Linked DNA regions of Homo sapiens. The protein of the gene in region 3 purifies or fractionates together with the protein of the main gene of each other region. This does not show direct contact. Each region holds a gene or a part of one and is shown on either strand. Other genes may lie near its edges.

Evidence for each region.
Region 1: the proteins of LYAR (region 3) and CHLSN purify together in Homo sapiens (co-immunoprecipitation; 2 studies listed by BioGRID and IntAct, with this or other methods). This does not show direct contact.
Region 2: the proteins of LYAR (region 3) and RSL1D1 purify together in Homo sapiens (co-immunoprecipitation; 2 studies listed by BioGRID and IntAct, with this or other methods). This does not show direct contact.

The regions. Positions count from the first base shown.
Region 1 is NC_000007.14:1,124,747-1,128,396, reverse strand, and holds part of CHLSN (protein cholesin), read left to right. Parts: intron 1-1,010; 5' UTR 1,011-1,011; coding exon 1,012-1,140; intron 1,141-2,650; exon of another isoform or gene 2,651-2,743; intron 2,744-3,650. UniProt on the Homo sapiens protein: Hormone secreted from the intestine in response to cholesterol, where it acts to inhibit cholesterol synthesis in the liver and VLDL secretion,leading to a reduction in circulating cholesterol levels. Acts through binding to its receptor, GPR146.
Region 2 is NC_000016.10:11,838,043-11,841,692, forward strand, and holds part of RSL1D1 (ribosomal L1 domain-containing protein 1), read right to left. Parts: intron 1,944-3,650; coding exon 1,653-1,943; intron 72-1,652; coding exon 1-71. UniProt on the Homo sapiens protein: Regulates cellular senescence through inhibition of PTEN translation. Acts as a pro-apoptotic regulator in response to DNA damage.
Region 3 is NC_000004.12:4,283,557-4,287,206, forward strand, and holds part of LYAR (cell growth-regulating nucleolar protein), read right to left. Parts: intron 3,017-3,650; 5' UTR 2,963-3,016; intron 240-2,962; 5' UTR 187-239; coding exon 65-186; intron 1-64. UniProt on the Homo sapiens protein: Plays a role in the maintenance of the appropriate processing of 47S/45S pre-rRNA to 32S/30S pre-rRNAs and their subsequent processing to produce 18S and 28S rRNAs. Also acts at the level of transcription regulation.

The DNA.
Region 1 (3,650 bases), on a different chromosome or scaffold from region 3:
GATGGCGCCACTGCACTCCAGCCCGGGTGACGGTGGGATGAGCCGAGATGGCGCCACTGCACTCCAGCCCGGGTGACGGTGGGATGAGCCGAGATTGTGCCACTGCACTCCAGCCCGGGTGACGGTGGGATGAGCCGAGATGGCGCCACTGCACTCCAGCCCGGGTGACGGTGAGATGAGCCGAGATGGCGCCACTGCACTCCAGCCCGGGTGACGGTGGGATGAGCCGAGATGGCGCCACTGCACTCCAGCCCGGGTGACGGTGGGATGAGCCGAGATCGCGCCACTGCACTCCAGCCCGGGTGACGGTGAGATGAGCCGAGATCGCGCCACTGCACTCCAGCCCGGGTGACGGTGGGATGAGCCGAGATCGTGCCACTGCACTCCAGCCCGGGTGACGGTGGGATGAGCCGAGATCGTGCCACTGCACTCCAGCCCGGGTGACAGGGTGGGATGAGCCGAGATGGCGCCACTGCACTCCAGCCCGGGTGACGGTGGGATGAGCCGAGATCGTGCCACTGCACTCCAGCCCGGGTGACGGTGGGATGAGCCGAGATTGTGCCACTGCACTCCAGCCCGGGTGACGGTGGGATCAGCCGAGATCGTGCCACTGCACTCCAGCCTGGGTGACGGTGAGATGAGCTGAGATCGCGCCACTGCACTCCAGCCCGGGTGACGGTGGGATCAGCCGAGATTGTGCCACTGCACTCCAGCCCGGGTGACGGTGGGATGAGCCGAGATTGTGCCACTGCACTCCAGCCTGGGTGACAGAGTGAGGCCCTGACTCAAAAAAAAAAAAGACAGAAAGGAAATATACCAAAATGTGTCAAGTTGGTTGTCCATAGGTTATGAAATGTGGGAGTTTGAGTTTATTTTAACTTTTATATGTTTTCCATAATACTCTTTTTTTTTTTTAATGGGAGAGTGCCCTACCTCTTTTTATTTAAAAATCTTACATGAGTTAAGCCTTTCATTTCCTTGTCTTCAGCAATTTACTTTCTCTGTTGCAGGATGGCAAAACAGAAGAGAAAAGTTCCTGAAGTGACAGAGAAAAAGAACAAAAAGCTGAAGAAGGCGTCAGCAGAGGGGCCACTGCTGGGCCCTGAGGCTGCACCAAGTGGCGAAGGAGCCGGCTCCAAGGTAAGGCCGCCTGTGCTTCACTGGCCCTGCCCTCTGGGATCCACCTGTTATCTGATCTGGAGGGAGAGGGGGTGGCTCAGCCTGCTGGTCTCTGTGGAGCAGAGCCTGGAACAGGTGCGGAGGCGTGGTGGGGCTTGGTGCCTTCCAGAAGCGATTGTAGGACAAAGAAGGATTTTAGTAAATTTTGAGTTGGAACCCTATGACTGCCTTTCTTAGCTGCCAGGAAACTGCTGTTTTGGGTGCTGTGTTGTGTAGGGGACTTGGTGGCGGCATGCAGGATGGTGAGGGGCCTGCAGCAGGCCTTCGGTTGGGCCCTGGGAAGGTGCGAGGGGCGGCTCCTCACCTGGGCATGTGCAGAGGCGTGTCCTGAAAGCCTGTGTTTAAAAATGCACATCTAGAAATGTTCGTGTCGAATAACACGATTATTGTCCGTTTGAAAATCACCTATTGGTATCACTTTCTAAACGGTGTGCAGCGGGTTATGAATAACGTTGAGATTTGAGTATCCACCACCATTCACTTGAAAAGACACGTGAGCCATCTTCTCCTAAAGTGATGCATTTTTATTCTTCGTTTTCTTGAGACACAGTCTCTGTCGCCCAGGCTGGAGTGCAGTGGTGGGATCTCAGCTCAGTGCAACCTCCATCTCCTGGGTTCCAGCGATTTTCCTGCCTCGGCCCCACAGGTAGCCAAGACTGCAGGTGCACACCACCACGCCCGACTAGTTTTTTGTATATTTGATAGAGACCGGGTTTCACCATGTTGGCCAGGCTGGTCTTGAAACTTCCGACCTCAAGTGATCCACCCACCTCGGCCTCCCAATATGCTGGAATTACAGGTGTGAGCCACCGCACCTGGCCTGCATTTTTATTCTTTTTTTTTTTTTTTTTTTTTTTTGAGACAGAGTCTCGCTCTGTCACCCAGGCTGGAGTGCAGTGGCGCCATCTTGGCTCACTGCCAGCTCCGCCTCCCAGGTTCATGCACTCTCCTGTCTCAGCCTCCTGAGTAGCTGGGACTACAGGCGCCTACCACCACGCCCAGCTAATTTTTTGTATTTTTTAGTAGAGACGGGGTTTCACCATGTTAGCTGGGATGGTCTCGACCTCCTGACCTCGTGATCCACCTGCCTCGGCCTCCCAAGTGCTGGGATTACAGGTGTGAGCCACTGCTCCAGGCCCTGCATTTTTATTCTTGAAAGTATTTTATTATGTACTGTATCATGTTTATCTTCCACAAAAAGATGCATATACATTTAAATTTGAAAATATAAAAAATTTTTTGACCCACCAAGTTCTGAGTGTTAAAATTTCTCTTCTGCATTGAGCTGTGTTTACCATTAGGAGCATGCAGTTGATCGAAACAGCATAATAGATTAGGAATTTTCACAAATGATTCTACATAAAGTGAAATCTGACGACGCGCGCGTCACATCGTGGTAAGAGCATTGTCACCCCGTGTTACCACCCCGTGGAAGGGCAGGGCTTTCCGTGTCTGCGGATGGCACACTCACCTGTGGATCCGCGCTGTCATTGCTCGAGAGAAAGCGGGTTTCCACAGGCTTTGTTCCTGTTCTCATGTCAGATTTCAGTGCTGAGCGCCCTTGCTGACATAGATGAGTAAATGGGAACAAGAGTAGTGTTGTAGCTTTGTTGCTTAAGTCCTTAAACTTTGAGACCATTCTGTGGTTTGGGCACATATTTTCAGGATTTATTTTAAAGCTCTATCAGTAAGTGACAGGTGGACTGGGTCCCTGAGTTGTGCAGGGGCCCGGTGCTGGCTTGTTACATTTGTTCACTTCCCCAGGGTGACACCAGGGTTCAAGCTTTGCCATTGATTAGTGCTGGAGGTCTCGTGCCTGGGGCAGTGTGCCATTGTGAGATGTGGGGTGGCAGGTGGCCCTGTTTTTCATGAAATGAGAAAATGGCCGCTGTGCAAAGGGAGGTGGAAAGGGGGAGCCCACGTGGGCCCTTCAAAGCGGCTTCCAGCAGGAGGTGGGCACAGCCAGTGCTTGGAGGGGTCCCTGGGCTACCCAGCCACGGATGCCCGGGACGGTGGAGTGTGCCTGGTTGCTGGGTGTGGCCCAGCTCACTCTGGGATCCTGTCCAATGAGGCAGTGCTGAGCTCTCGGAAGGTGGTGTGAAATCACGTCCACCACGTCTGTGGCTGCAGGCGGCTCAGCAGGCGTGGGTGGAGGGGAGAAGCTGGGGTGTGTGCCTAGAGGAGCTCCTGGCTGTCTCAGAGGGTCGTCTCTCACTGCCACCCCCCGGGCGAGGGAAGCCAGACAGCACCCCAAGCACAGCCAGACAGCTTGTCCTGGGCTCTCTAGCAGAACACCCCAAGGTCACCCGGAGGCTGAGGCCTGGCAGGTGCAGAGGTCCTGCGGCTCCCGCGCAGCGGGTCAGCAGGCAGCCCCGCGTTCCACCTGAGCCTCACCTTGAATTTCGGCTCCTCCTCCGCAGGCTGTTGAATTCCTGTGTCTCCCAGGCTGACTGCCTCTTTTTTTTTTTTTT
Region 2 (3,650 bases), on a different chromosome or scaffold from region 3:
TTCTTCCCACGAGGTGTGCTGGGATTAGGACTCTTTGCTGGAGACTTCTTTCCTGTGGCATGTTTTTGAATCTAAGAAAAAAAAAAGTAAGTTTAATATAGAAAAAGCCACAAAACCTGACACTCTAACTCCAGGAGTTACTGTTTTTATTTGTATTTATTTATTTTTCAGACTGAGTTTCGCTCTTGCTGCCCATGCTAGAGTGCAATGGCACAATCTCAGTTCACTGCAACCTCTGCCTCCCGAGTAGCTGGTATTATAGGTGTGTGCCACCACGCCCGGCTCATTTTTTGTATTTTTAGTAGAAACAGGGTTTCACCATGTTAGCCAGGCTGGTCTCGAACTCCTGACCTCAGGTGATCCACCTGCCTCGGCCTCCCAAAGTGCTAGGATTACAGGCGTGAGCCACTGTGCCCGGCCAAGTTACTGTTTTTCAGCGCATGGCCAAGTTACTGTTTTTATTAGTTAACCCCCAAAAGGTACACCTCAGTATGATGACAGAAATAAGCTGTATTCCACTATTAAGAATGAGGTATAGGTGAGGTGGCTCATGCCTGTAATCCCAGCACTATGGAAGGCTGAGGCAGGTGGATTACTTGAGGCCAGGAGTTCAAGAGTAGCCTGGCCAACATGGCAAAACCCCATCTCTACTAAAAATACAAAAATTAGCCAGGCATGTTGGCACACACCTGTAATCCCAGCTACTCAGGAGGCTGAGGCACGAGAATTGCTTGGGCACGAAAGGTGGAGGTTGCTGTGAGCCGAGATCATGCCACTGCACTCCATCCTGGGCAACAAAGTGAGACCTTGTCTCAAAAAAAAAAAACAAAAAAAAACTGTGAAGACCCAGAGGTCTTCCTGGTCCAATCAGAGGAAAACCACCTTTCCCTATGACTGAGGGGAGGGAATCCTGGAAGCACCATGAGGAGCACAGCAGAGACACATGGGAGCAAATCCTGAGTCTTCCAAATGTAGCTGCACATCCCTGGCACATGGTGTAGGGCAAGGGTTCCCAGATTCTCTGTGTAAAAGCCAACTGGTGGCTGAGTGCGGTGGTTCATGCCTGTAATCCCAGCACTTTGGGAGGACAAGGCGGGCGGATCACCTGAGGCCAGGAGTTCAAGACCAGCCTGGCCAACATGGCAAAACCCCGTCTCTACCAAAAACACAAAAATTAGCTGGGCATGGTAGTGCGCGCCTGTAATCCCAGCTACTCGGGAGGCTGAGGAAGGAGAATTGCTTGAACCAGGGAGGCGGAGGTTGCAGTGAGCTGAGATCATGCCACTGCACTCTAGCCTGGGTGACAGAGTGAGACTCCATCTTCAAAAAAAAGCAAAGCAAAAAAAAAAAAAAAAGCCAACCGGTTGGGACTAGGTGTGGTGGCTCACACTTGTAATCCCAGCACTTTGGGAGGCCAAGGTGGGAAGACTGTTTTGACCCCCGGAGTGTAAGACCGGTCTGGGCAATATAGCAAGATCCCATCTAAAAAAAAAAAAAAAAAAAAGGTACAATAAATCATGATATGATAACCACCTTCACAGTTCTTTGGGTTCACTCTAGTATTTTTCATCATTTATTGCTCAGCACAGTACCTGCCTGACACAGTAGCCACTGAACCAATCCATTATGAACAGTAAATATTAAAACAATACCTCTACTTTTTCATTAGCTGGAGTCTTCTTTCCTATTGGTACCAGCTGTGGGATTTCGTCTTCGGATTCATTTGTTGCTTTAACTTGGGCTTTTCCTCTGCCACGTTTTTTCTTCCCATGCTCTGGGGTCTGTTCCTTCTTTGATTCAGGTTTCTTCACTGTAGTATCACCACTTTCAGGTGCCACATCATCTTTACTAAGAACTGATGCAGTCTTCCTAGCCTGCTGCCTCTTCTTCTTCCTCTCCTTTTGTTTTTCAAAATTTCTTTCTCTTCGTTTTCTCCTTGCCTCCTACCAAAAAACACCATACAAACATTTTAGCAGGAACAGTTCTGTTGGTTAACAAACGGCATAGATGTACCACGTGCAGTTTTGATTATCCATAAGCCCCTAAATGGACCTCGATCTATACAGAGAACAAACTCCCTAACCAGCACTGGAACCTCAACCGCAGTTTTTGACTCACAGCCAAACATGCATTTTATGCAGTAAATTATATACCGGCATTTCAGAATCTGACTATCTAAAGTATACAGTTAAGAGACTTTTGTGAAACACAGTATGGTTTAGAGTGTAAAGAATAATACTCAGCTGGGCGCGGTGGCTCACGCCTGTAATCACAGCACTCAGGGAGGCTGAGGCAGGAGGATCACTTGAGGTCAGGACTTCGAGATCAGCCTGGTAAACATGGTGAAACCCCATCTCTATTAAAACCACAAAAATTAGCTGGGCATGGTGATACGTGCCTGTAGTTCCAACTACTCAGGAGGGTGAGGCACAGAGAATCATTTGAACCTGGAAGGCGGGGGGTTGTAGTGAGCTGAGATCATGCCACTGCACTTCAGCCTGGGCGACAGAGTGAAACTCTGTCTCAAAAACAAAATTAAAAATTCATTGGACACAATTAACATGGCTAAAGAGAGAAACACTAGGAGATCAGTCTAACAAATAGCAAAAAATTAAATTTTCTCTCCTTCCGAAAGCTTCTTTTGCTAGAGTACGAGTAATACTGAAAACCTACAAACCAAGCTCAGGAGGTATCTGTGAGCATAACCTCCGACATCCAAATACGTGCACATTAGGTGAACTGGTGTGTTGAAGTTATCCCAGTCCCAGTCCCAACGAATGTAGGTGTATGAGTTTGTCCTGTGATGAAACAGCGCCTTTTCTAGGGTTGGCTCTTGCCTGTTACCCTTTTCCCTGAGCTATCAGGATTAAACTCCAGCCACCTACAACCGTGGATGGGAATAACTGGGTAAATAATTATGTCAATTCCTTTTATTACTGTTTCAAATGTATATATAGCTCACATTTATTTCAATGTTTAATATTTTAAATGTTTTGGTCTTTATTTAGAAGTATGGTGATGTTTCTATGACCGGAAATATGTGGTAGGAACTTAACTCAGGCCCCCTCAAAAGCCAGTTAATCCAGGCCAGGCATAGTAGCTCATGCCTGTAATCCCAGCACTTTGGGAGCCCAAGGCAGGCGGATCGCTTGAGCTCAAGAATTCAAGATCAGCCTGGGAAACAGGGCGACCATGTGTGTACAAAAAATAATTTAAAAATTAGCTGGGCATGGTGAAGCATGCCTGCAGTGCCAGCTACTCGGGAGGCTGAAACAGGATTGCTTGAGCTCAGGAGGTCAAGGCTGCCGTGAGCCTTGATCACGTCACTGTGCTCCAGCCTGGGGGACAGAGTGAGACCCTGTCTCTCTAAAAAAACCCAGCAAGCACTGGATCTAACAAAAATAAAAAAAAAATCCAATTTATCAATAAATACAAGATATTTCTATCTTAATGCGCATTACTAACATCAACTACCTCATGTAAAGTGACAAAAGCATACCCATTTTACCTCATGTAAAGTGACAAAAGCACAACCACCACAAAACCAGAAGATAACTGAAAAGTCGGGCAGCGATGATGGTCTACTTCTCTCCTAGTGACTGAATTTACACCCTTCATTATTCATTCTGTAAGTATTTAAAATTCTACTA
Region 3 (3,650 bases):
GCGCCAAGGCTTCCAAAACTGATCTGGATTTACTATGGATCTACATGAATTCTGTGAAGCTTACCAGAAATCTTTACCGCAGTCAATGCAAGAAAGGCATTCACAGTTTCTGCAAACAGACACATGCTTTTCCACTTGTATTTTCTTCACTGATTCACCACATGCATTGCATGTAAAAAATACCATTTTTAGGTAAATGGCTAAATATTCTCTATCCAAGACAGGTTTTAAGTCTTGTCCTAAGGAAAAAAAGACAATTATAATTATAAACTGAAACTTCTCATTTCAATAAATGGCTCATGCCCCTAACTTTTCAACCATAATTTCACATGAAAATAACAGAGTCAAAGTTGATTAGCAATCTACATAAAATTCCACCATTCATATAAGTAAAACTAACATTAACAATGAGAATGGCTAACATTTATTGTGTCCTTACCACGTGCCAGGCACTATTCTAGAGGCTTTACATTTATTCACTTATTCAATCCCCGCAGTAACCCTATGAGGGAAGGACTATTATTGTTCAAAATTTATATGAGGTAACTGAGACACAGAGATTACATAACTTGCCCAAGGATACACGGTTAACAGAACCAGGATTTAAACCTGGCAGATTGGCTCTCAAGATGAAGAGCTTTGAGGGTGTTAAATCTTACTTTCCATAATACCTTAAACTCTCTCTCTGTATATGAAACTTATAGAAGGCATTGCAATTTAGGTGTACACTACAAACTATTTCAGGTCCTCAAATATACTAAGAACACAGCAAGAGGAAAACTGAGTGAAGTTTAGAAAGTGAAGAAGAGGCAATTCTATGGGCACAATTTCTATGGCACTAAAAGCATTCATATCAATATTACTATATATCTACAAAGGTTAAAATGAGGACATGCGCCTCAGCTGTAATGGACAGGGGCCTTCTTCATGTGGCAGCTTGTCAGACAAGTCAGAAAGAAACGGAACCAAGTCCAGGTGTCCCAACTGCTGGGTGCTGAATTACTGGAGTTCACAAACCCAGGTGTCCCGAGCACTGCCCCAAAAAGAAGTATGTCTGCACACGCACATAAACATCATTGTAAAATTTCACAGAAATGCTACCGTGCTCAGGAAAACACAAATTCGTCTAGAAGTGTTAGAGAAGTCACAGTAATTTTCCATACTTACATAATTTTTAATCACTAGATTTTAAAACAGCATTGTTGTTTTACATTATAAGTTTTACAGCAAAAATACTGAGAACTGTTTAACCCAGAGCTTTCTTCCTCATTAGGAAAATAAAGGTGAGGGTCAAGTAAACCGATGCAATTTACTTCAGGGTAGGACTTCATCCAACAAGCTTTCAGTACAAATGATCTACCCTTGGTTTGCAGAGAATTCCCATGCATGAAATCACCGTTGCTCCTCCACCAGCATGTTTTGGATCACTGCCAGTGAGGCCACACCCAAGCAACGACCAAGGTTATTCATGTCCATTCAGCCTTGAATGGAAATGTACATCCTGGCTGCATCTCCAGGGTTCACAAAGGTCCAGCTGGTCTCTTGTGGAGGCCTCTTGCCCTGTGGGACACTATCAGACATCAGCTCAGCTTCTACGCTACATACAAACCACAGACCCCTGATTCCGCGGTCCCAGGCCCCGCTCCTCAGCTCACTATCAGTGTATGTTAGTAAACGGACAGCATGTGGTCAGCTACAACCTAGCACCAAATCCTCAGGAAGGAAAACATGACTACCCTCGATGTGCTGCAGCAACTGTCATCTTCTCATCTGCTTACTGTAAAGATGTGTGATATTGTCAAGCTCCTGGGAGCTGGAATCACGTTTCCCACAACCCAGCTCCCTCAAAGCTTACCATTCTAAAAAAAGGCAGAGGGATGATCAACATGTCAGGCAACAAGAGCAGCTATCCTGCCTGACAAGGGAGAACAAAGGCTGGAATAAGAGCCAACATCACATTCTCAAAGAGCATGGAGGTGCACTTTGGTGTAAGAGCAGGAATAACTTATTAGTCACCAAGAAATAGATTGTCATCACAGGCACAAGGTGAAAGCAGCCGTGATATGCCAAATTATCTGCTGAAAAACGTTAAAGCACTTTTCTAATAAGATACAACAACAAAAAACAGTCTCTGAAACTTAGATACGGCTTAGAGCTTGCCAACCTCTGTTGCTGAGGACAATTCTATTTCTGGATGGAGTGGGAGATGGGAGGAAGAAAGGTTTCGACAAGGCTTAAGAGTGAATTGAGAGATTCCTGTCCCAGCAGGAATTAAAGGCCTAGGAAGGAAGCTGGAAACAAAATATATTGACTGAAAGAAGCAGTGAAAGCAGTGATGTTGACAAAAAGATACTCAAGAGTAACTGTGCCAAACATTCTATCTCTCTGGAGATCGGCTACACACTACAGTGTAATTAAATATCAATTCAGAAGGTGATTAGAATCTGGTTACATGTCCAGCTAAAAAATAACTCTCACATCATTTTCATTTGGTCTTTACTTGTTTAAGGCCAAATGGGTGGATTGCACAGGAAGTCAGAACTGTCTCTTCCTGCCTTCCTCCGGATTTTTACACTTGCCATGAAATGGGAACAGCTCTGTGTCCACTTGCTTGGCTAATGAGCTAATGTCTGTAAGGAGCTTACCTCTCCTTTATTCAGAGCCTGGAGGACAGTCCAGCACCTTGATTACACCTCAAACCCAACCTAGCCCCAGGCGAAAATACCTGTAATTTATGCCATAAACACTTGCTTGGGCTTCAAAGAAAAGCTCAAAACCATCAGAAGCTTCAAAGTCAGCCTAACTGCACAGCAGACAGGGTGTCCCAGGTCTTAGTGCAGGCTTAATATTCGTAAGCGTAAATGCTACAAACTTACAAAAAGCCGTCAGGTGGAAATTCAGTCCCTCTAATGGAAGACAGCAAACATTGCCTAAAACAAAAATGTAAATACTACAAACTTACAAAAAGCCGTCATGTAGAAATTCAGTCACTCCAATGGAAGACAGCAAACATTGCCTAAAACAAAAAAGTAAAACGGTATTGTTCAAATTCCACAAGACTAGATAAGCATGAAGGAAATTTAATTAAACTTTTTTTTTTTTTTTTTGAGAAAGGAGTCTCGCTTTGTCGCCCAGGCTGGAGTGCAGTGGTGCATTCTTGGCTCACTGCAAGCTCCGCCTCCCGGGTTCATGCCATTCTCTTGCCTCAGCCTCCCGAGTAGCTGGGATTACAGGCATCCGCCACCACGCCCAGCTTATTTTTTGTATTTTTTAGTAGAGATAGATGGGGTTTCACCGTGTTAGCCAGGATGGTCTCAATCTCCTGACCTCGTGATCCGCCTGCCTCGGCCTCCCAAAGTGCTGGGATTACAGGCGTGAGCCACCGCGCCCGGCCTTAATTAAATTTTAAATGATGTTTTGGCAAGTTTGGATCATTTATGCTTCTGAAATTATGAAAGCTTAAAACTGCATTAAGATTTTGAGGACACCCAGTCTGCCGGGCTCAGATGTGACAGATTTCAACATCTAGCCCTAAGTGTAAAAAGACAGCAGTTTTTTCATGGGGCTGGATCTAAATAGAGTCCTCTTTTCCTTCCCTGGCTCCCCAACTCCCTCTGCCCAATGTCCAGTCCCAGCGCAGCCAGAGAGAT